Homo sapiens: one gene and its partners. The protein of the gene in region 1 interacts with the protein of each later gene in a pairwise test. Each region holds a gene or a part of one and is shown in the gene's direction. Other genes may lie near its edges. The genes, in order: UBE2J1, TMEM51, LAPTM5, ELOVL4, GOLT1A, TLCD4 and CDS1.

What was found.
Region 2: the proteins of UBE2J1 (region 1) and TMEM51 interact in binary tests that used the Homo sapiens proteins (3 or more experiments, as listed by UniProt).
Region 3: the proteins of UBE2J1 (region 1) and LAPTM5 interact in binary tests that used the Homo sapiens proteins (3 or more experiments, as listed by UniProt).
Region 4: the proteins of UBE2J1 (region 1) and ELOVL4 interact in binary tests that used the Homo sapiens proteins (3 or more experiments, as listed by UniProt).
Region 5: the proteins of UBE2J1 (region 1) and GOLT1A interact in binary tests that used the Homo sapiens proteins (3 or more experiments, as listed by UniProt).
Region 6: the proteins of UBE2J1 (region 1) and TLCD4 interact in binary tests that used the Homo sapiens proteins (3 or more experiments, as listed by UniProt).
Region 7: the proteins of UBE2J1 (region 1) and CDS1 interact in binary tests that used the Homo sapiens proteins (3 or more experiments, as listed by UniProt).

What each region holds. Positions count from the first base shown.
Region 1 is NC_000006.12:89,335,723-89,339,222, reverse strand, and holds part of UBE2J1 (ubiquitin-conjugating enzyme E2 J1), read left to right. Parts: intron 1-679; coding exon 680-764; intron 765-912; coding exon 913-1,018; intron 1,019-3,500. UniProt on the Homo sapiens protein: Catalyzes the covalent attachment of ubiquitin to other proteins. Functions in the selective degradation of misfolded membrane proteins from the endoplasmic reticulum (ERAD) and is essential for cells to recover from ER stress.
Region 2 is NC_000001.11:15,160,247-15,163,746, forward strand, and holds part of TMEM51 (transmembrane protein 51), read left to right. Parts: intron 1-3,500.
Region 3 is NC_000001.11:30,740,775-30,744,274, reverse strand, and holds part of LAPTM5 (lysosomal-associated transmembrane protein 5), read left to right. Parts: exon of another isoform or gene 1-485; intron 486-1,725; coding exon 1,726-1,819; intron 1,820-2,558; coding exon 2,559-2,635; intron 2,636-3,500. UniProt on the Homo sapiens protein: May have a special functional role during embryogenesis and in adult hematopoietic cells.
Region 4 is NC_000006.12:79,923,554-79,927,053, reverse strand, and holds part of ELOVL4 (very long chain fatty acid elongase 4), read left to right. Parts: intron 1-672; coding exon 673-860; intron 861-2,021; coding exon 2,022-2,102; intron 2,103-3,500. UniProt on the Homo sapiens protein: Catalyzes the first and rate-limiting reaction of the four reactions that constitute the long-chain fatty acids elongation cycle.
Region 5 is NC_000001.11:204,200,826-204,203,988, reverse strand, and holds part of GOLT1A (vesicle transport protein GOT1A), read left to right. Parts: intron 1-1,001; coding exon 1,002-1,093; intron 1,094-2,177; coding exon 2,178-2,356; intron 2,357-3,163. UniProt on the Homo sapiens protein: May be involved in fusion of ER-derived transport vesicles with the Golgi complex.
Region 6 is NC_000001.11:95,190,355-95,193,854, forward strand, and holds part of TLCD4 (TLC domain-containing protein 4), read left to right. Parts: intron 1-1,195; coding exon 1,196-1,514; 3' UTR 1,515-3,500.
Region 7 is NC_000004.12:84,642,127-84,645,626, forward strand, and holds part of CDS1 (phosphatidate cytidylyltransferase 1), read left to right. Parts: intron 1-897; coding exon 898-1,017; intron 1,018-3,095; coding exon 3,096-3,199; intron 3,200-3,500. UniProt on the Homo sapiens protein: Catalyzes the conversion of phosphatidic acid (PA) to CDP-diacylglycerol (CDP-DAG), an essential intermediate in the synthesis of phosphatidylglycerol, cardiolipin and phosphatidylinositol.

The sequences.
Region 1 (3,500 bases):
GAACTCCTGGCCTCAAGTGATCCTCCTGCCTCAGTCTCCCAGAGTGCTAGGATTACAGGCGTGAGCCACTTCGCTGGCCAGTAAAACTTTACATGTTAATTATTTAGATTTCACTTGTGCAACTCAGTTTCAAAAGGTGCTGTAAAACACCTTCTAAAAACAGCTTTTATTATTCAGCATCCAACAAGTATTTTTGGAGTCTATAAGGACAAAAAATCTGTGTCCCATGAGAGGTTACATTTAAAAAAAAATCTTTTTGGCCGGGCGCGGTGGCTCATGCCTGTAATCCCAGCACTTTGGGAGGCCAAGGTGGGCAGATCACAAGGTCAGGATATCGAGACCATCCTGGCTAACACGGTGAAACCCCGTCTCTACTAAAAATACAAAACATTAGCCAGGCCTGGTGGCAGGCGCCTGTAGTTCCAGCTACTTGGGAGGCTGAGGCAGGAGAATGGCGTGAACCCGGGAGGTGGATCTTGCAGTGAGCTGATATCACACCACTGCACTCCAGCCTGGGTGACAGAGCGAGACTCCATCTCAAAAAAAAAAAAAAAAAAAAAAAAAACAAACTTTTTAAGATAATCTCTAAAATTATTATATATAAATAGTATATTTTTACAGAAAGTATAAACATTAAGCACATGTATTTAATTTTCTAAATGCATTGTTTATTCCTCAGGCTAATGGTCGATTTGAAGTGGGCAAGAAAATCTGTTTGAGCATCTCAGGCCATCATCCTGAAACTTGGCAGCCTTCGTGGAGTAGTAAGTGTTAATTTATAGTGAATATAAATCTCATAACTTCAGTCAATTCATAGTTATGAAGTATAATACTCTGATTTTTTCTTTTTCCAGAATAAACCCAGTTGCTTTTACAAAGCAATTTAGATTGATATTTACTTTTTTATTTCAGTAAGGACAGCATTATTAGCCATCATTGGGTTTATGCCAACAAAAGGAGAGGGAGCCATAGGTTCTCTAGATTACACTCCTGAGGAAAGAAGAGCACTTGCCAAAAAGTAAGTTTTGCATTTCATTCTTCTTGAGGTCTGAATAGTATTCAGGGTAATGGCTATTAGGAGGTAGGGCCTACCTCTTACTATGTGACTTATTTTCTGAGTGACTGTAGCTACAGGATCTTATCTCAGTTTTGCTCTTTTAGGAATTCAGTTGTAATAATTTCCTTGGAGTGACCAGAATCTAAGTAATTTATTTAATGCTATCTAGTCTTAAAAAGTAGTTGATACTATTTCACTATTTTTAAAAAATTCAGTGGGAGATATATTCTCCTGGAAAACAATACCAGTCATTTGTTTCCACTATGGCATTATAGATGGAAAAGAACCAGAGCAATTATTTGTAGCTTTCCACAAGATTACAAACCTCTTGAGGGCCAAGAGGTAATCCACTTTATCCATCTTTGCATCTAGCTCATAGCAAGTGCTTAATAAATGATCTGGAATAAAGCAAAAGAGATTTTATCAAGTTGTGATTGCCCAGTGGCAATCACAAACAGAGAAGTGATGCCTTCTCTGTTTTTTTCAGGTGCAGGTGCACTTTTGTCTATATGACCAAGATCAGTCCTTCCATTCAGAGTAGCCCCTCTTTGAGTAGTGCTGATACCTAATTTTTGATGTTGATAATTTTTCTGCTCTGGAGTCTGCTGCCTACCACCCTTCAGACATATTATGTTAATTAAATTATATCATATTTTACCCTAGCACACCCCAGAGTAGGCCCTCTACAGATATTTGCTAAATCAGTTAGATTTTAGCATCTGGAAGATTTGGTAGACTTCTTGGTCTTATAAGCAACTTTTCTTTTTAAACCTTATTTCCAAACTATGGGTATGTACTTTATTTATACAGCTCTTCATAGATTACACTATGTACTTTGAATACATAGTATTTGTTTTCATTCGATTTACTACGTTGGTTTTTTTATCTTGATGCCTTTATCCAGTTGATTTCATGTGCGAGGTAAAAAAAAAAAAAAAAGAACTGGAGTTCTTGTTCTTCTAGGCTTCTCACTGTATATTCTAGATTCTCAGTCTATAATAGAAACCTTTTAAAAAATGATTTTGGGCCGGGCATGGTGGCTCACACTTGTAATCCCAGCTCTTTGGCAGGCCAAGACAGGTGGATTGCTTGAGTTCAGGAGTTCGAGACCAGCCTGGGTAAAATGGCGAAACTGCAGCTCTACAAAAAAATACAAAAATTAGCTGGGCGTGGTGGCACGTGCCTGTAGTCTCAGCTACTTAGAGACTGAGGTGGAAGGATTGCTTGACCTGGGGAGGTTGAGACTGCAGTGAGCCATGATTGTGCCACTGCACTCAAGCCTGTGGGACAGAGTTGAGACCTTGTCTCAAAAAAAAAAAACAAAGATTTTTGCATTCAACCGTGGTAGCATGCTACCATTGTGGATAAACTAATACATTCAAAATAAACACTCCCCTTAAGGTTCATCTGACTCAGTTAAAAGTGAATACATTTTGAAGCAAATAATTTGTATATAACCAATTCTCAAAGGTGTGTGGTCAACAGTGCCACTTCTGGTAAAACAAGAAATACTCATCAATAAATACTAAATTAGGCTGGGCACAGTGGCTCATGCTTGTAATCCCAGGACTTTGGGAAGCTGAGGCAGGAGGATCGCTTGAGCCTAGGAGTTCTGGACCAATCTGGATAACACAGGGAGACACTGTCTCTACAAAAAAAAAAATAATAATAAAATGAAATAAAAAAAAAAAATAAAATAAAATAAAAATTAGCGGGGTGTGGTGGCACACACCTGTGGTCCTAGCTACTTGGGAGGCTGAAGTGGGAAGATCACTGGGGTCTGGGAGGTTGAGGCTGCAGCAAGCCATGATTGCACCACTGCATTCCAGCCTGGGTGATAGAACGAGGAGACCCTGTCTCAAACAAACAAACAAACAAACAGAAAAACTAAATTATTGCTACTTTTACATATATTTTGTTTATATGATATTTCATAATTTTAAATAGCATGTTCTTCAAGACCTAAGGTTTTTTAATAGAACTAGAAGTACTATGAAAAACAATTTTTTAGAAGGAAGTTTAACAGTGTAACAATATATGTTTTATATATGATGCATGTTTACTTTCAGTCATTCATATCCTCAGAGGACTCTTGTAAACTTCAAGGAAGTTTTGACTATATCTGGAATACAAAGGGAAAAATGGAAAAACAAATATATTTTAGAAAATAATCTAGTTAACAGACATATCCTGAGTCTCTACCTAATGTATAATCAGCAATAAATTAAGTCTTTGGATTTTCTGCAAGTTCTCCCAAGTCTTTCAAGTTATACTGCTATTTGTGAGGGGTTTTTTTTTCCCTAGAAATATCTGTAAATTCTATGTTTAATTAGTTTCTTTACTGCTTTATATATATTTCTGCTAACAGATAATTTGATCTTGTTAAAGGACTTTTTTCACAGCCTTAAAATAGGTTTGTTATATGTGATCTCAAGGACAGTAT
Region 2 (3,500 bases), on another chromosome or scaffold:
TTTGGTGAGGGAAAATGACTTTATTTTATTTTATTTATTTCTTTTGAGACAGAGTGTCACTCTGTTGCCCAGGCTGGAGTGCAGTGGTGCAATCTTGGCTCACTGCAACCTCTGCCTCCTGGATTCAAGCAATTCTCTTGCCTCAGCCTCCTGAGTAGCTGGGATTACAGGTGCATGCCACCACGCCCGGCCAATTTTTGTATTTTTAATAGAGATAGGGTTTCACCATGTTGGCCAAGCTGGTCTTGAACTCCTGACCTCAAGTGATCCACCTGCCTCAGCCTCTCAAAGTGCTAGGATTACAGGCGTGAGCCACCACACCCAGCAAGAACATGATTTTAAAAAACAAAACAAACACTCAAACTTTCTTAAGTTACCATAAGAGGCCTCACATACAGCTTCCTTAAAACTGCCTGCAATTTGGAGAGAAGCAGTTAGGTACTGGAACTGCCTGTGGGTAATTATTGTTTTCAAACAGTGACAGATGCAAATTCTCTTCTTTTGGGGGAAATTGCCTGTAGCTAAACACCGGCGCCATCACTTTAAACAAATCTCCTGATACATATGGTATGCCAGGCGCTGAGCCCAGGAACGAGGGAGAGTCAGCCCCCGCCCCCCACCCCGATGGAGCTGATCCCCCACGGGAGGCAGCAGGGATTGTACCTTAACAACATGTGAATAAAGATGAGGAAGCACAGCCCGTGAAGGAGGAGGCTTAACCCAAACTTGGAGAGTCAGGAAGGATTTTCAGAAAGAGTGCAGTCTGAGCTGAAATGGGGAGCGGGGAGGGCAGGTGCAGCCGCCACCGCCAAAGGTCTTCCTGGTGGAGGCAACTGCCTGTGCAAAGGCCTCAAGGTGTAAAAGAGCTTCGTTAACACAGGCCAATACTGAGTGTAGAAACGCTGCACTCAGGGCAGATGCTGAAGGCAGAGGTGGAAAAAGTATTTTATATAGTTTCTTCTTAAAAGTCATTTTGGGGGCTGGGCATGGTGGCTCATACCTGTAATCCCAGCACTTTGGGAGGCCAAAGCAGGTGGATTGCTTGAGGTCAGGAGTTCACGACTAGCCTGGCCAACATGGTGAAACCCCATCTCTACTAAAAATAGAAAAATTACCCGGTATGGTGGCAGGTGCCTGTAATCCCAGCTACTCAGGAGGCTGACCACAGGAATCGCTTGAACCTGGAAAGCAGAGGTTGCAGTGAGCCGAGATCGTGCCACTGAACTCCAGCCTGGGCAACAGAGTGAGACTCATCTCAAAAAAACAAAAGTCATTTTTCTCAAAAAATTAAAATCGAATAACCATAGGATCCAGCAGTTTCACTTCTGGGTGCATACTTGTCTTAGTCCATTTGTGTTGCTGTAAAGAAATACCTGAGATTGGGTAATTTATAAAGAAAAGAGATTTATTGGCCGGGCGCAGTGGCTCACGCCGGTAATCCCAGCACTTTGGGAAACCGAGGCAGGCAGATCACGAGATCGAGACCATCCTGGCCAACATGGTGAAACCCAGTCTTTACTAAAAATACAAAAATTAGCCAGGCATGGTGGCGGGCACCTGTAGTCCCAGCTACTCAGGAGGCTGAGGCAGAAGAATGGCTTGAACCCGGGAGGCGGAGGTTGCAGTGAGCCGAGATGGAGCCACTGCACTCCAGCCTAGCGACAGAGCAAGACTCCATCTCAAAAAAAGAGAGAAAGAGGTTTATTTAGCCCATGGCATCTCAGATGCATCAGCATCTGCTTCTAGTGAGGGCCTCGGGCAGAAGGACAGCAGGCGTCATGTGGTGAGAGAGAAGAGGAGAGAAGGAGTGGGGAGCAGACTCTTTAACAACCAGATCTTTGGGCACCAAGCCATTCAAGAGGGATCCACTCCCAACAACCAAACACCCACTAGGCCCCACCTCCAACATTGGGGATCAAATTTCTCTTCTTTTTTTGAGACAGTCTTACTCTGTTGCCCAGACTGGAGTGCAGTGGCACAATCTTGGCTCACTGCAAACTCTGCCTCCTGGGTTCATGCGATTCTCATGCCTCAGCTTCCCAAGTAGCTGGGATTACAGGCATGTGCCACCATGTCCAGCTAATTTTTGTATTTTTAGTAGAGATGGGGTTTCACCATGTTGGCCAAGCTGGTCTTGAACTCCTGGCCTCGAGTGATCCACATGCCTCGGCCTCCCAAATTGCTGGGATTACAGGCATGGCCACCGCATCCAGCCTGGGGATCAAATTTCAACATGAGATTTGGAGAGGACCAATATCCAAACTATATCAATGCTCAAAAGAATTGAAAACAGGTTTTTGAAGAGATATTTGTACACCCATGTTTATATGAGCATTACTCATAATAGCTAAAATATGAAAACAACCCAAGTATCCATCAAAGGATGAATGAATAAACAAAATGTGGTCTATCCATACAGTGGAATATTATTCAGCCTCCATGTGGAAGGAAATTCTGACACCATGCTGCAACATGGACGAACCTTGAGGACATCATGCTAAGTGAAATAAGCCAGTCACAAAAAGACAGATACTATATGATTCTACTTGTATGAGGAATCTAGACATCATAGAAATGGAAAGTAGAATGTTGGTTGCCAGGGGCTGGGGGAAGAGGAATGGGGAGTTAGGGTTTAATGGGTAAGGGGTTTCAGTTTTGTAAAATGAAAGCGTTCTGTGAATGCATGATGGTGATGGTTGCACAGCAGTATGAATGTACTTAATGCCACTGAACTGTTCATGGAAAAATGGTTAAGATAGTCAACTTTATGTTATGTGCATTTTATCACACTAAAAAGTTGGTGGGTGGGGGAGTCATTTTGGAAACAAGACTCAGATAGTCATTTGGCCATATCATTGCGTTCTCTCTACAGACCAGGTGTTCTTCCAGGCTTTGGGGGGAAACGGTGCCTAAGACAGGCTCAGTTCCTGCCCTCTTGGAGCTTACACCTTATTAGGCAGCAGGGAGGAGTCAGTCAAGTAGGAAACCAACAAGTAAAATAACAAATCAATAACATGTCAAATGCACTGATCTGAAATCTTTGCCCCTTCCCTATGCTGGCAGGATCAAGCCAAAGCTAAGCTCTTTAACTTTCAACACTATAAAGCCCGGACTTCTTAGAGTCAGCCTCTGTTAATCTTTTCAGACCTATTACTGCTGCCTTACCCCAACTTCAACTGCATCAGTCACAAGGAACTACTTTCCACCCCCACCTACCTCGTACCCCTGCTCAAAGCCAGGAACTTTGGCGGCTTTTTTCCTTCCTGTTCTTTCTGCTTTTCTTTCTAGACTGCCCAGAGGCTTTAGAAAACACCATAATTTCAATTCTAGAAGTTTATCCTAAGAAAACAGTTAATGAGTATAAGGAGTTAGTTTCGAGACTGTTATTTTTTGTAATAATAGCAACAAAATTAGAAAGCCATTTTGTTTTTAATCTGTCCAGAGATGGTCCTAGCCACGACCCTTTAAATAAATTTTTGTTTAATTTTGGAATAATTTTA
Region 3 (3,500 bases), on another chromosome or scaffold:
TGTGAGTGTCAGCCACAGCCCTCACCACACCTGCCTTCTTTTTGGGGTGTTCTCAACTTTCCTGATGAGACAAAGCCTTTCCAGCTCACTCTTTAGCAGGTAGAGGGGGCAGTTAGAGCATGCACCGTGCTCCTGGTACTACTGCCGAACCACGTAAGCTTGCCCCAGCCAAAAGCAGATTCTGTTTGCTGGGCACCCCCTGCCAGTCCCTGAGCTCAGTGCTTTGCAAATATAATGCAATTTAATCTTCACTAAATCCAGTGATTGCAATTTTCCAGATGAGGAAACTCAGAGAGGTTAAGAGACTTGCCCAAGGTCACACAGTGACCTGGATTCAAAATCCTCTTGATCTGATTCTGGAGCCCAGCTCTTCATCACTCTTCCGTTCAGTCCCTTTCCACGCCCCTAAACAGGATGTAATGTGGCAGGAAGACAAGTTGAGACCTGTGTCTGAGCTAAAAAAAAAAAAAAAAAAAAAACCCACACAGTCAGCAAGGGGGAAACAGATGGTGGGTGGCTGGTTGCCTGTCAGCTGAGCATGAGTTACCAGTGCAGGGCTGCCTAGAAAGCCGATGTAAACTTAGGGCCATATTAATAGAGATAGGGCACCGACTAGAGGGGAGGGGACAGTTTTCTTGTTCTTTATATGGGCAGAGGTTACCTGGAGAACTGTATGTATGTCATAGGGGAAGGGTGGAGGGCTTGCTGTGAGGACATGGACACACATAAGGTTGTGAGTTCCCCATGGCTGGAAGCACTTAAGTAGAGGCTGCATGGCACAGGTTTATGGGAGGCATGGATAAGGTGACCTCCAAGGTTCTTTAAAACTGCAGTTTTGTGGCTGAACTTCAGTTGTTTCTAGGGCCACCCCAACACTCAGGCCTATCAGATTCGCCCCTTCCACATCATTCTTAGCAAGGGTCATCTGAGAGTGTGGGGTTCATTTGTTCATTCATTCATTCATTCATTCATTCAACAAATACAACAGCTAGGGGAATGAACAAAGAGACATACAGGCTTTCCCTGCCTGGAACCTACAGTCGAATGGGGATAATGGATAACAGCACAGATTGAGTGCTTACTATCTGCCAGGTACTTTAAGTGAATTATCCCATCTGGCCCCACCACAATCCTATGAGGAAGATGTTATTGTTCCCTGAGGGGCCATGGGAGACAGAGATTCAGGGTTAGATGCTCTCCAGGGCCCTCCTGGGCCTGTGTTGATGATTCCGGGAACCTGAAGCTCTATGGTGCTCTCTGATCCCCAGAGCTTGTTGTTACAGAAGGGGATGCAGTGGAGGGGCCTTCAGCTTCTACCCCCCACCCCACCTCTTTAAGCCTGACCTTCAGTAGTAACAGTTACCACTCTTCCTGAGAACTGGGCCTAAGGGCTCTCCTGGGATAGTCTCATTTACTCCTCACAGTAGCCTCCTAAGGAAGTTACTAGTATTATCCCCATCTTGCAGATGGGAAAACCGAGGCACATAGAAGTCAAGTAGCTTGCCCAGGGTCACATAGCTGGAGAGAGGAAGACCCAGGATTCTGAACATGGGCTCTCTGTGTGTAAAGGCCACTCTTTTGTCTGAGATGCCCTACTGACCTGGCATGCCATCTGCTCCAGGATCCCCACTACTGGCTTCCCTGCTGTACACCACTAAGGTGGGAGGGGCTGGTCGGGGGGCCGTGATGCAGGCTCAGCTGACTGATGCTTTGCTTTGCCTCCAGATCATGAGCGTCTTGTTGTTCATCGAGCACTCAGTAGAGGTGGCCCATGGCAAGGCGTCCTGCAAGCTCTCCCAGATGGGCTACCTCAGGATCGGTAGGTCCAGGGGACGCCGGTGGAGTGGCGGGGGGAGGAGGACAGGGAGGGCCCTGGCCAGGGATAGCCAGGCTAGTGTTGGAGGCACTGCCACCTCTCCATGGACGATGGATGACCTCTGGCAAGTGTCTTCCTTTCTTGGGGCCTCAGCTGTTTCATCCGCAAATGGGGATGTTCCACCTGACCCCACCCACATCTGCAGGTGGTGAGAGCAGATGGAATGGCACTTTGCAAATCCCCACCAGCTGGTAAAGGTGATAGCCTCACTCTTCTGCTTAAAGCCGTCAGTGGCTGCTCATCACACTAGAATAAAATGGAAACTCCTCACCATAGGATCCAGCCTCTGCCCACCTCTCTGACAGCATCTCCCTGCGATTCTCCACCCCACACCTTGCTCCAGCCACACTGACCTCACCAACCCTGTCCCTGTCTCAGGCCGATTCCTCATTGCTCTCAGGCCACTCCCCAGGGATGCCTTCCTCAGCCTCACCCTGGCTGAAGTGGACCCCAGCCTGCACCTCCAGCCCAGCACCCTCTGTCGCATCCTCCTGTGCTATGTGTGATGTTCTGCTTTTGTCTTTGTACTCACTCCAGACTCAGGACTGCAAGAGGGCAGGGCCTGGGCTTTCCTGTGCATCCTCATGTCCCCAAACCAGTGGTTCCCCAAGTGTGGTCCTGGGAGCCTGGCTGGGGTCCCAGGGGCACCCCTGAGCACCTCCCTGCTCTCCTTGCCTTTCAGCTGACCTGATCTCCAGCTTCCTGCTCATCACCATGCTCTTCATCATCAGCCTGAGCCTACTGATCGGCGTAGTCAAGGTGAGGGCTCAGGAGCCCCGCTGCCCCCTGCCCCTTCCTGTTATTCACACCCACTGGTGGTGGGCAGTGCTGGGTGCTGAGAGGGTGGGAGGCGGGTATGTTAGGCGGTCCCACCTGCGTTCTGGAGATCTTCACACATACCTTTTGGAGAACCATGTTTCTCCCTGAGATTCCCTGGGCAGGTGACCTCAGTTCCCTGGTAACATGAGCCTCCACGGGGCCGGGCATGGTGGGCTATGCTGGTCACCGACACTTTGGTGAGAACTAGCTGATGACTCACATCCTTTTAAACGGCAGGTGGAAGCAGGGAATTTTGAGAGTGAAAAGAGGAAGTGTTGTTTCTGGGGGTGAGAGACGGGAGAAAGCACTGGATTTTGTAATGGATGAGAGGAGCCGAAGAAGGGGGAAAGTAGGATGCATGCAGCTCTATCCATGCAGTGACAGGAGCCAGCACCCTGAGGGGGACCTACGCCCTGGAAGGCCCCCAGAGAGCTCATGATCTGATTGGGGAAGATGGGCCTTCAGAGAGACAGGGACAGTCTAGTGTGACAACGAGGGGCTCCTGGGCCCGAGGCAAATCTGGTGGGAGAGTTGAGATGGGCTGTAGCTCAATCCCCTGCAGAAGAGGAACCCGCGGTCCCTGGGTCCCCAGAAAGGCAGGAAGCCAGGGCCTCACCACATAGCCATGGGAGTAGGATCCAGAAAGAGGGTCCTTCCTGTGCAGACAGGGGCCTGGCCCTTGCAGGGCCGGAGGAGTGGGGCGATGATTTGGTGCTGGTTTGGAATGCGTCCACCCTGCCTCAAATGCCAGCACCCACTCCCCTTGCTAACACTCACTCTGTCTTGGAACCCATGCTGCCTGGGG
Region 4 (3,500 bases), 9.4 Mb from region 1:
GTTATGCGATTTACAGCTCTAGAGAAAAACATTCAAGTTAGTTATTCATGGGAATAAAATAGGTGCATGTTCTCAATGAAAAAGTTAGAAAAATGTCTTGAATATGGTGACTGTTTACATTATAGAATTGTAATTAACCCTAACTTAATCTCTCAGTGCCCCTGTACTCTTGTCTTCAGTGTCTCGAGATATTTCAGCAAATGGCTACCATCGCCCCGTACGTACCTCTCCAGTTACATTCTTGCCTGCTTTAGGAGTGGACACACAGAGCAGCCTCCAAGCTGCCCTGATAAATTTCACGTGTATAATATGGAAGACAAATGTTTCCTTAACATATTTATTTTCTGTGTATGAAGTTTTTCATTAACTTTTCATCCCAAGATAACCACCTCTGTTTTTAGTGCGCTTTATTTCTTGTTTTTGTTCTGTAGGGTCTCTGTAAAACATAATGTGTGACATAAGTAATGAAGCATAATTTTCAAAAGCCACTTGCAGGAGTCAGTATTGTTTCTTTGGTTTTTATACCATGTATTTTTTGTTGGGACTCAAAGGACAGTGATCCGTATTTAGTCAAATTAGGAAATTAAGTTGAAACATCTTGATTCCTAAAAAGTGTATTTTATAAAACATTTACTGATTAATGAATTTTATGGTATTTTGTTCTCTCTATAGATAAGCGTGTGGAAAATTGGCCTCTGATGCAGTCTCCTTGGCCTACACTAAGTATAAGCACTCTTTATCTCCTGTTTGTGTGGCTGGGTCCAAAATGGATGAAGGACCGAGAACCTTTTCAGATGCGTCTAGTGCTCATTATCTATAATTTTGGGATGGTTTTGCTTAACCTCTTTATCTTCAGAGAGGTATGTTTTTAAGATCACTTTAATAATTTTCCAAGGTTATTGGAAATTTAAAAATGAGAATGTGTAAAACCATCATTGTAATATTTTACCCAGACATAACTGTTAGCTACTCTAAAAGTACATTTTTGACATTTTTCACTTTTGAATAACAAAAATATTAAACATGAGGTATAGGAAAGTTGTTTAAAGTGGAATTTTGAATAAGACCAACTGGATTCTAAAGTAACCCTTATTAGCTGTTCTGGCATTGAAAGTTATTTAACTTTTCTTAGCCTCGTTTTCCCCACTTAAATACCTACCATCTCAGGTTATTATCGGAGTAAAGTAAGATAATTTTTGCATAGTGTTTGGCACGTATTAAGCACTCAGTAAACAGTAGCAGCTATTTATTTATAATTCTTATTCAGTAGTTTCTGGTTTGGTAACTGATCAAAATATGCCAATTTCAAGTAAATCCTATTACATAATGTTGTATTTTGGGCTGGAATTAAAATGAATTAACTGCCATATAGCTGTTGTTACTAATCATTATATACTTTTCTGGGCACTAGCAAATTCTCCACAACATTTTCAAAGGAAATCCTAAAGGCTAGATTGACACAGCCATTTTTTAAATTGCATATGTATAAAGAATTTGTTTCCTAAGAGACTCATTAAAATTCTGTATGAAGCCAGAGAACTGACTAGTAATGCTAGGAAAATAAACAATAACTCTTCTTAGAAAAAGAAATATTTCTTTACTTGAAAACTTAGCCTCGAGTCTCAACTTCATGAACACTTTAATTTATTTGGATACCTGTACCTAATTTGTTAGATGCAAACCACTCTGGATCAAACATAGAAACCAGTTAAGGTAGGACAACTTTGAAATCTGAGTCCTAGCAATAAAAATTTCTCTTAATACTGTGAAGTATTTAATAGATAGAGTCAATGTTCAGTATAAAATTTACATGTGATTTTTAATTTAGATTTTAATTATAGAACAAATTAATGCACAGTAACTTCTAGCAATCGGAATGCATGAAATTTTTAATGCATTTGAAATTTTTAAAGAAAATATTGTGTTTAAAATAATTTGAAAGGCTACATTTTGTATATAATTGTGTTTTTAATGCTGTGTTTACTAAAACTTTACTACAAATATTATTACTCTTTTTCCAGTTATTCATGGGATCATATAATGCGGGATATAGCTATATTTGCCAGAGTGTGGATTATTCTAATAATGTTCATGAAGTCAGGGTAAGTACATTAAAAATACTCTTAATCAGTAAAAGTGGTTTGATTTTTATAGGCCCCAGTCTGTGAAAATATAGAATGTACTTTTTTTTAAGAGACAGTTTCTTTAACATTCATTTAGAGACAGTTTCTTGCTCTGTCCCCCAGACTGAAGTGCAGTGGTATGATCATAGCTCACTGCAGCCTCAAACTCCTGGGCTCAATTGATCCTTCTGCCTCAGCCTCCCAAGTAGCTGGGACTACGGGTGTACCCCACCATGCCTAGATATTTTTTTACTTTTTGTAGAGACAGGGTCTTGCTATGTTGCCCAGTCTGGTCTTGAACTCCCAGCCGCAAGGGATCCTCTTGCCTCAGCCTCCCAAAGTGCTGAGATTACAGGTGTGAGCCACCACACCTGGCAAAATGTACTTTAATATGATAGTGAAATTATACTAGATTGTTATGAGTCAGTAAAACTATGCTTTTTTAAAAAGTACTTAATTTAAAATTTGTTTTTGTATCTCAAAAATGTTTTTTATTTTGCAGCATGAGTGAATATGCATTGAATTACTAGAATGCAGTACTTGTTAAAGCAAAGAAGTCTCATGTTTATTTTAAAGACATTATTTTAGATTTTTGTTTGTTTGTTTTTGCTCAAGAGTAGAAACTCTTAGAGTCCAAGTTATGTGTTAAGAAAGTGAGGAAAAGTAAATGTTTTGTGAAGTGTGGAATATTTAGGAAATTAGGCATAGAACAATTTGTATTGGCATAAACTCAGTTTTTTTATATTTGCAGAAAAATAAAACACTAGTAACAAGATGTTATATTTTATTTTCCATTCACTTACATGAGTAAAATTAACATTAAGCAAAAGAAACAACAGATTACCTTATTCTATTACGTATTTATTGAACTCTTCTTATATACTGTGGTTCATACTAGAAATTACATATAAAACATAACATGTTTTATGTTACCTATAGTATATGTAGTAATAATATCTAGTGGCTTCCCTTGAGAAAAATAGTTTCCTGGCATGGGGAGTGGACAATATATAAATATCAGTATTCATCAAGACTGGAGACAAAATTGGTTTAATGTACTTAACAATTTTATGTACGTATCTTCATTTCCCTATTAGAAGACTTATGGACTGATGAAAAATCACCTGTCTTGGTTGTCATGTTGGTTTTATTTATTCATTAAATATGTATTGAGCATCTACTATATGTTGGTACTGGGGACAGGGGTGAAAAGCCCTGCCTTTGTGGGGCTGGCATTTTAGTGAGGGTGAGAAGGCAGACAGCAGCCATGTAAACAAATGACTAAGGAGGAAATAAAACCTAGAAGGTGACTGAGAGAAAATGAGAGACTACTCAGATGTATTGGCTATGAAAAATTTTCTTCTGATAACTATTGCC
Region 5 (3,163 bases), on another chromosome or scaffold:
ATATGTTTATCAAAATGTCAAAAATGTAGCCCTTGACCAAACGAGGGGGCCTTCATGTCCTGCACTTCTAGGCTACGCTTGCTGGCTCTGAGTGAACTCCTGCAGCTTCAAAGAATGCCCTGAGACACTTACAAACCTTGGGAATGGGGGCTTACTGTCAAACCTTGGGAATGGGGGCTCACTGTCAAACCTTGGGAATGGGGGCTCATTGTCAGTGTGGGTCCAACCTCGGCAGAACTGCCCAAAGCCACTGGGCTGAAATGAGAGTTGGCCGAAGAGTGTGTGGGGGGCCCGCAAGGTGCCTGCTGCAGGAGGGAGGGAGGACAATGGGAGCAGGTGCAGGCTTGGGTCTTGGATATAGGTCCCAGCTGAGAAGAGGAATGCATTCCTAACTGATGACTTCTGTTTTCCCAATCCAGTGGGAAATGTCACCACCTGAGAGTGGAGACAGGGCAATTCTGAGGAGGAAGGAGGCAGTGTGGAGAGTTGCTCAGGCGGGCCAGCCTCTTGAGTAAGGACCAGGAGAGCTGGGTGGTTCTGAGGCTCTTTGGAGCTGGTGGTCCTGAGTTTTCAGTGGCTCCCTTCTGCGCAGTGTGGGCTGGGCTCCAGTGGTTCTCAGTTGCACAAGGCAGGAGCAGAGGCAGCAGATGCTATGTTCAGCCTTGATACTGATGTGGATAATGTGGCTTTTGAGGACAAGAGGAGGCTGAGAGTATAAAGTGGTCAGGGCAGCACCAGCTTCCACACAGGGCTGCAGTGAGGACAGCATGCCACTGTGTACAGAAGTGACAGCACAGTTCCCAGGTGCCAGACAAAGCTTCATGCCATCCTACCTTCCCCTTCCCATCCCACCATCCCCTGAGAGCATGAAAGCTGAGATTCCTGGATGGAAGTGGAGTCACCCCCATAGAGGGCACCTGTCCTGTGGCAATGGGGGAAGTTTCAGGGTCCCCACCTGCTCCCCAAAGCCCTTTCCTCCACCACCTCCTTGCCCATTGCAGAGATTGGTGTGGGGATCACCGGTTTCGGCATCTTCTTCATCCTCTTTGGAACACTCCTGTACTTTGATTCCGTGCTCCTGGCCTTTGGAAACGTGAGTCTCCCAGCCCTGTGTCCCCACTCCCCTGCCCCAACCTTTCTGAAGTCTCTATTGCCAGGATAGTCCTGGCAATAAAGACTTACAGTTTATTTAAGTCTTTAAATAAATCCCTTAAGTAAATCCCAAGTTTATTCAGACCATGCCTATCCAGGGGTCAGACATCATCAAGCCTGGGCAGAGGAGGGCACAGGAAATGGACGCAGAGCCCGCTGGCACCAAGAATCTGAGGACCTGGATTCTCACACCGAGCTCTGGGCGAGACCCTGGGGGTTCTAAGAGGACTCAGACACTGTCCCTGCCATCTGAATCCCACTCTAGGGCTAGAGATATAACATGACATACATGGCTGGGAGGAAGGCAGGGGCCATGGTAAACACATTTAGTATGAAACAAGGGGCTTAGTGGAAAGAGGGCACACTGAATTGGAGAATGGTGGAGAGGAATTTGGAAAGGAAATGGGTGTGGAGGTGAATAAAGCACTTCCAGGGGGATTGGAACAGCAGGAGAAAAGGTGTGGGGAAGGAGCAGGGAAGCATGGGATATGCTGGAAGAAAACCAGAGAGTTCAATTTGATGAGAGCCTGGGCACTCTTAAGGGATTCATTAGGAGCCAAGCTGAAGACGGTGATAGGGCATCCAGGGGAGGGACTGGAGGGTTATTCTGTAGGCAGTGGAGCCTCTGAAGGTTCTGTGTGACTTTCAGTATGGCTGCCTAACCTACTTAGGCCTCAATCTTCACTTCTTTGGAATAAAAATCCCTCCCGATTCCATCTTCCCCAGATGGTATGGTGAGAAACCAAGTCCCATATGAAAAATGCTTGGGCTCCAGGGAATTGGGTAGGCAACTAGAAACCGTCAAAGGTTTCTCATCCATCCCCCTGCCTCTGCGCAGTCCTGTTCCCAGCCAGCAAGACTTATCAAGGCTCTGGGATTCTGCCACACTGCTGGATGGCCCTCGCTCAGATGGTCTTGAACAGTTAGCACATCCTGTCCCAGCCCACCGCCTGGCTCCAGGCCTAAGTCCCTCACTCCTCAGGGGGCTGGTGGGTTTGCTTCATGCTCCCCTCCCTCCCCTACAGCTGCTGTTCCTGACGGGCCTGTCCCTCATCATTGGCCTGAGGAAGACCTTTTGGTTCTTCTTCCAACGGCACAAACTCAAGGGAACCAGCTTCCTCCTGGGGGGTGTGGTTATCGTGCTCCTACGCTGGCCCCTCCTCGGCATGTTCCTGGAAACCTACGGATTCTTCAGCCTCTTTAAGTGAGTGCAAATCCCTATAACCCTGGACAGACCCACCAAAGTGTCTGAGTGGCTGAGATCACCCCAGCAGGGAGTGCAGAAGCTGGGACTTTATCCTGCAAGAGATGAGAACCATGGACACCTTGGAAAGGCCCCCTAAAGTAGGCTGAAGGGTACTTTGGAGGGATTAGCCCATCCATCAACAAATACTGATAGAGTGCCGACTGTGTTCCCAGCACTGTGCCCCCAGCACTGTGCCTGTGAGCAGGGAAGAGACACGAGGCCTGCCCTCAAATCTCAGTGATCCAGCCGGAGAGGAAGGGCAGTGAGCTAACATGTTCCAGGCACACTCATGATCATCATCTTATTTTATCACAACAACCCACTATAGGATTATCCTCTACTTCATAGATAAGGAAACCAACACTCAGAGAAGTTGCCCCCGGCCCAAAGTCTCAAACTAGTATGTGAAAAAGGTCGCCCTTAACCCAGGGAGCTCTGGCTCCTGACCCCTGTGTCATCCCCTGGCCAGGCCTGTGTCAGCCCTGGGCCTGGGAAAAGGCAGGGTGGAACTCAGCCATGATGTGTGGCCACTGTCAGGCCTGTAGGCACTTAGAGGGGAGCCCAGGGTAGTGTCATAGAGGAAGCAGGACTTGAGAGAAGCCTTGAGGGATGGGTAGGGTCTAAGAGAAGACTGGAGGGCACTGAAGGAAAAGGAAGGAAGGAGTCTCAGAGAAAGTGGGGGTGGGAAGGAAGACTTCATATGTCTACACGGTGGTGTGGAGAGAATAGGGGTGGGATTGGGACAATGGACCCTGGAAGAATGAT
Region 6 (3,500 bases), on another chromosome or scaffold:
GAATCTTGCTCTGTCGCCCAGGCTGGAGTGTGGTGGTGTGATCTCGGCTCATTGCAACCTCTGCCTCCTGGGTTCAAGCAATTCTCTGCCTCAGCCTCTGAGTAGCTGGGATTACAGGTGCCCGCCGCCATGCCTGGCTAATTTTTGTATTTTTAGTAGAGACGGGGTTTCACTATCTTGGCCAGGCTGGTCTTGAACTCCTGACCTGATGATCCACGCTCCTCAGCCTCCCAAAGTGCTGGGATTACAGGGGTGAGCCACTGCGCCTGGCTGGCCAGGCTGGTTTCAAACCCCTGACCTCAGGTGATCCACCTGCCTCAGCCTCCCAAAGTGCTGGGATTACAGGCGTGAGCCACTGCAATTTGCACTTCCTAATGACAATAGTGAACATCTTTTTATATGCTTAGTTTTCATCTATATATATTTTCTGATGAGGTTTTTGTTATGCTCTTTTACCAGTGTTTTAATTGGGTTGTTTTCTTATTGTTGACTTTTAAGAATTCTTTGTGTACTTTGTATACATGTACTTTACCATACATGTATATTTTAAATATTTTTTCCTAGTGTGTGGTTGTCTTTTCTTTAACAGTGTCTTTCGCAGAGCAAGTTTTAATTTTAACGAAGTCCAACTTAACTAACTTTTTCTTCCATGGATGACACTTTTGGTGTTGTATCTAAAATAGCACCACCAGATGCAAGATCATACAGGTTTTTTTCCTTTTTTCTTATGGAAGTTTTATAGTTTTGCATTTTACATTTAGGTCTATGATCCATTTTGAGTTAATTTTTGTGTAAGGTGTGAGATCTCTGCTTAACTTCATTTTTCTCGATGTTGATATACAATTTTGCACACCTTGTTGAAAAGACTTTTTTTCTCCACTGAATTACCTTTATGCTTTTGTCACAAATCAGTTGAGTATATTTGTGTGGGTCTATTTCTGAGCTCTCTTTTCTCTTCCATTGGTTTATTGATCTTTCACTAACACCATGCTGACTTGATTACTGTCGCTTTATAGTTAAGTCTTGGAAATGGGTAGTGTGAGTCCTCCAACTTTGTTCTTTTTCAGCATTGCGTATGCTATTCTAGGCCCTTTGCTCCTCCTTCACTGAATTTTAAAATTTAAAAACTAAAATAAAAATGGTTAATCCTCAGAGATGCACTATAAATGTGATGTTTCTTTAATTCATTTTTCAGGTGGTTCTTTGAAGCTCTGAAGTATCCCAAGTTTTCTAAAGCTATCGTTATCAATGGAATACTCATGACAGTAGTATTCTTCATCGTGCGGATTGCCTCAATGCTTCCTCATTATGGCTTCATGTATTCCGTGTATGGAACAGAACCCTACATAAGGCTTGGAGTTTTAATCCAGTTATCCTGGGTCATTAGTTGTGTTGTTTTGGATGTGATGAATGTCATGTGGATGATCAAAATTTCAAAAGGTTGCATCAAAGTCATCTCTCACATCAGACAAGAGAAAGCCAAAAATAGTCTTCAGAATGGAAAACTTGATTAAAAGAGTGCTACCGATAAGCAAACTTCATTACTACCCAGCATATCTGCTGATAGGATGAATTCTTGGCATGTTCTTGTGTACCTTTCTTAATTATAATTGTTATTCAGGATTTCAGTGTCATTTTTTTTAAACCTTAGAAAAGAGAAGGCCGGGCACGGTGGCTCATGCCTGTAATCCCAGCACTTTGGGAGGCCAAGGTGGGTCGATCACTGAGGTCAGGAGTTCGAGACTAGCTTGGCCAACATGGTGAAACCTCATCTCTACTAAAAATACAAAAAAAAGTAGCTGGGCGTGGTGGTTGGCGCCTGTAATCCCAGCTACTCGGGAGGCTGAGGCAGGAGAATCGCTTGAACCCGAGAGACGGAGGTTGCAGTGAGCTGATATTGTGCCACTGCACTCCAGCCTGGGCGACAGAGCAAGACTCTGTCTCAAAAAAAAAAAAAAGAGAGAAACTAAAATTAAAATTTAGTTTTCATCCCAAGATGTCTTTTCTGCCTTTCTTTTGCCTTATTTACAAGCATGGATAAAAATCTTAAAGGTTTAAATAAAAATGATCAATATAATGGTGAATCTTTTGAGAAATCTCTTAACTGCATTGGTATTTTTTCTCTGTGAAAGATGACTATGATAATCTGGTACAAATGGTTTTATGTCACCAATTTTGCTGCAAGAATGGGAACTGCTTTTAAATCTGTAAATAGCTCTTAACATTTGTTGTATGCACTCTTTTCTTACTATGGCTGTCAACACTTGTGTAGGGTTTAATTTCTAAATTGTTGGCATGTTCTTTTTCTCAGGCTATTCAGAAGTAACAACATTTTTCATTTCAGACATGCAATCACCTATTAATGATGAAATATTTTACCACTTTGGGAATATTTAATTAGTTTAGTCATGGAGAATACTTCCCACATTTTAAGATTTTTTCAAATATCACTGTCATTTCTATTTTAGCATTTTATCAAATTATTGCTTTTTTATTTTATAATAAGGCTTAAGACAGATTATAGACCTCCTTAAGAGATGAGTTTCTTCTTCTAAAAATGCATGTTGATAGAGGACTATTTAGGCTAATCGGAGGAATCATTAAGAAAGAAAGTTTTAACACTGTTTATCCCTATCTGCTTTCCTTGCACTTTTTCTGTGAAAAATATTTTCTGTTTGCAAAATCTTCCCTGAGTTCTGAACCCAGCACCATCAGTACCAAAGTCTTATGCAATATGTATTTATTATGCTCCTGAAATAGGCCTCTTCTTGATGAGACCCAAACTATTACAAAAATATCAGTATTCATATTTTACTCACAATTCATACCCGTGCTTACTTAGTTGGCATTTTAGTGCTTTGAATTTCTATCTTAAAGCACAGAAAAAAAAAGGTAATTTAATCCAAGTATTCTATCATCAAAATTATTGTCTGATTATATGAAGATAAATGACTGGCGACTCTGGTTGTGTGTGTATGTGTTTTGCTTTTACTTTAATTCTTGCAATCCAAATATAGAATTATATATTTATCTATTATTGCCTTTATTCTTTAAGCACTTGAGTTTAATGATTATTCTTACCTGAGAAAGGAAGAAATTTAATTCTACCAGTGATGAATACTTGAAATTAATTGAACTCATACCAAAAGATGTAATCCAGTTTCTCAGTTTGAAGGAGAACGTTTGACTCACTTTCATTGTTCATGCTAGCTGAATATAATCAAGACTTTTGATTTGATTTGCTTTTATTATTCAATGCAGATAGAGCCTGATAAGTTTTAGAACATTTAAAGAAGATTGAAATCTCAGTCAGTAACTAAATGATAAAATGAGATTGATTGGCTTATACTAGGTACATTTATTTTTGAAAGAATTAATGTAAAATAATAGTTATTTTTAAAGCAGCTAATATTACACTGATAATTTGTTGCTAAATTTAGTGCTGTCCACATCATAGGTGCTTAAATATGTACTGGTTAACTAGAGGGGGGTAGGAAAGC
Region 7 (3,500 bases), on another chromosome or scaffold:
AGACCAGCCTGACCAAAAGGTGAAACCCATGTCTACTAAACATAAAAAATTAGCCAGTCGTGGTGGCATACACCTGTAATTCCAGCTACTTTGGGAAGCTGAGGCAGGAGAATCACTTGAACCTGGGAGGCGGAGGTTGCGGTGAGCCGAGATTGCACCATTGCACTCTAGCCTGGGCAACAAGAGTGAAACTCTGCCTCAAAAAAAAAAAAAAAAAATTGGTGCCTCAGACATCTTTCTTCAACCAAAATGGGTGCATTTTGCACTGTCTATAAATTGTAGTTTCAGATTATTTAAAAAGGAGCAAGAACTACAAATTTGCAAAATAATTTGACTACAAAATTCTTCTCAGCCTTTATGATTGTCTCCCCAAATCTTTAGTGATTGTCTCACTGATGCTCATTTTGATAATAATCTTTAAGCAACTTATTTTTGTGTTTTTCCACAGCATTCATCTTAATTTTAGAGAAAAGTCCAACTTTTCCCTTATTTTATCATATAAAATTAAGGTGAAATAAAATACAATATTAAATTATATAATTACAGCAACAAAGCATTACTAGTTTAAAAAAATTTGGAAAATAACACAGCTGATTCTTTGTAAGAAGTAAAGTTCCTAGACAACCTGGAAGGTAGACTACCACGCTGCAAGATTTCAGTGTGCCAGTTGCCTGTCATTATTCTTACAGAGAGAAGGGAAATTGCTGGCTAAGTAGAGGATGGTACAGAAGGCTTAAATAGACTTTTCTTCCTTGATCCTTAAAGTTTGAAAAATTAACAAAAATGTGGTGCGTGCTTTGACTTACTATTTACACAATGGTTCTTAGATCAGGTGGTATGCTCAAATACAATTTCAGTGAAATTAGCCCCTCTCCTCCCCTTCTTTCTCCTCTTTAGGAAAGAGTGAGCTTGTACCCTTTCCAGATCCACAGCATTGCACTGTCAACCTTTGCATCTTTAATTGGCCCATTTGGAGGCTTCTTTGCTAGTGGATTCAAAAGAGCCTTCAAAATCAAGGTGTGTGTTTAGATTCTTTGTTATATTATTAGAGAATATAATTAGAGAATGTAACCTAGTTGGAATTTGGTCCGCTCATGATCTACATTAAGCCCCTAGGCCACAACTTTTATATCCTATTTGTTTCGACCCCACAGAAATGCTGCCACGTTGATCTGAATGTATTCTTTCTTTTTAGGTTTGTCATACCATGTTAATACATTTTAAGTGTCATGTCAGCTTCCTTTATAGACATGGCATGTGTCCTTTAGTGTTGGAATAGACCCAGAATCTTGGTCTTTCAAGTGCTCACCCAAGAATCCAGCCGTGAATCATCTAAAGTTTAGTGTTTTACTACAGTCTCACTTGAAGGGACATGCAGAAGAACCTTTGGCTATGTAACTGTCCATTCTGCTAAGTCAGGTGTCATCACACTCTTTCTGTAAAGGGCAAACAATACATTTATTAGGATGTGCAGACCATATATTCTATCAAAGCTTCTCAACCCTGAACCCTGCTGTTACAGTGAGAAAGCCCCCCGTGGACAATATGTCAATGAATGGGCATGGCTGGATTTAATAAAACTTTATTTATAAAAATAGGTTGTGGCCTGGATCTGATCTGTGGGACATACTTTTCTGACCCCTGTTCCAGAGACCTAAAATTATCCCTGTGTATTAGGTTAGATCATCATAAAGTGACATGTTATCTCAGCAATTTCATCTCAGCTTCCCTCACATGGCTGAGGCACCATCTGGGGTTAGAAAGTGGCTATGGAAGTTGGGGTGGTCAGGGAAAGCCTTTCTGAGGAGGTGGCACTTAAGTAGAGATTTGAGAAAAGAACTCCTCCAGAGAAAACTAAGAAGAGAGTTCCAGAGTGTACAGAGGAGTGGAAGAGGTTAATTAGCCTGTTAGAAGGTGAGCAAGAACAGTGTGGCTGTGGTTGAGAGTAGGAGATGAGACCGCAGAGTTTGGTGGGACCAGATCACACGCGGCCTACGGGGTCAGGGAATAAGTGAACTCAGCGAGCATTTGCCAGTGGGAAGCTACTATGTAAGGTGCAATGCAGTATACAAAAATATACAAGATGTTGTTCCTGTTCTAAAGATGCTCACCACCTACTAGGGCAGACAATACACTTCCCCAGAGAACTACAGCAACAGCTGTGCAGGATAAGTATCTTGCGAAGGCTGTAATAGCAGAGTGGCATTGAGTTACTGTGGCTCTTTTATGCTTTGACTAGTAAGGAAGAGAAAGAGAGAAATGGGTTGGCAAAAATTAACCAAAGACTTTTTCAGTAATTATTTTAAAAAGAAAAATGTTATATTTAGAATGGTATTTTCTTTAATGGTCTCCAATCCAAGATTTTTTGTTAAATGGTGAGTTTTTTTTGCATGTTGGAAACCAAACAGCTATTGCTGTTGTAGTTTAGATATTTTTAGGGTGCCTGAGTGAACTAGAAGAGCAGTTAGTCATGTCCATTTCCTGGGCACCCAGACATGTGAATCTACCTGTAAAGGGTCAGTTTGCAGAGGCTTACTACCATTCCCTCAGTGTGGCCATTTAATGGACTAATGTGTCCCATATGGGCTCACTGTAATTTTATTTTTTACTCTAACACTTAAAAAAAGAAGAAGAAATGTTTATCATAGTAGTAAAATGTTTATTTCAGAGTAAGAACTATTAGGATAAACAAGTTAGAACCAGTTGTACATCTTTTAGCAGCACTAAAATAGCTCCCCAAACAGCTTGTGGTTAAAAAGAAAGCTAGGCTGTAACAAAATTAGATTAGTAATAGCTAAGATAATTTTTATTTAGAAAAAGTTTTATTAACGAAAAAAAGTAAGTGCTAGATTTAATTAACGTTTGATGAATGAATGCTGTGGGTCAATTCAGAAATCATTCTAAAAGAAGCATGTATTTGGAAGATGTGGTTTTAATCTGCTGGATGTGTTCTAATAAGTTTTTATTTAGTGAAAAAAATCCAATAGTAATGTATTTTCGTTAGAGTGAGTCCATGACGCCAAAGAGACACAGATAGGAATTTTATAGCAGGTGATTTTTTGAAAATTTGCTAATATATTTGTTTGTTTCTAAAGGATTTTGCAAATACCATTCCTGGACATGGTGGGATAATGGACAGATTTGATTGTCAGTATTTGATGGCAACTTTTGTACATGTGTACATCACAAGTTTTATAAGGTACTTTTACACTTGAGACATTTTTTAGATGATTTCTTTGAGTTCTCATTTCCATCAACATTAGTTTGAGTAAGTTAACTTTTTCCGTCAATGGTAATCTACAATATTAAAGTGAATGGTGGCCCCTGGAATTAGAGTCTTGAGCAAGATGGTTAACTTGTAATTGTTTTACCTACATTTGAACAACTTAAAAAAAGATAGTATTTGTCATGGTCCTGGACCACATTGAAGACCCAATTAATGTGGATGGTATAGGATTTGAAACTTGAGGAGATTTGATTTCTCAACTGTGGGCATTGCA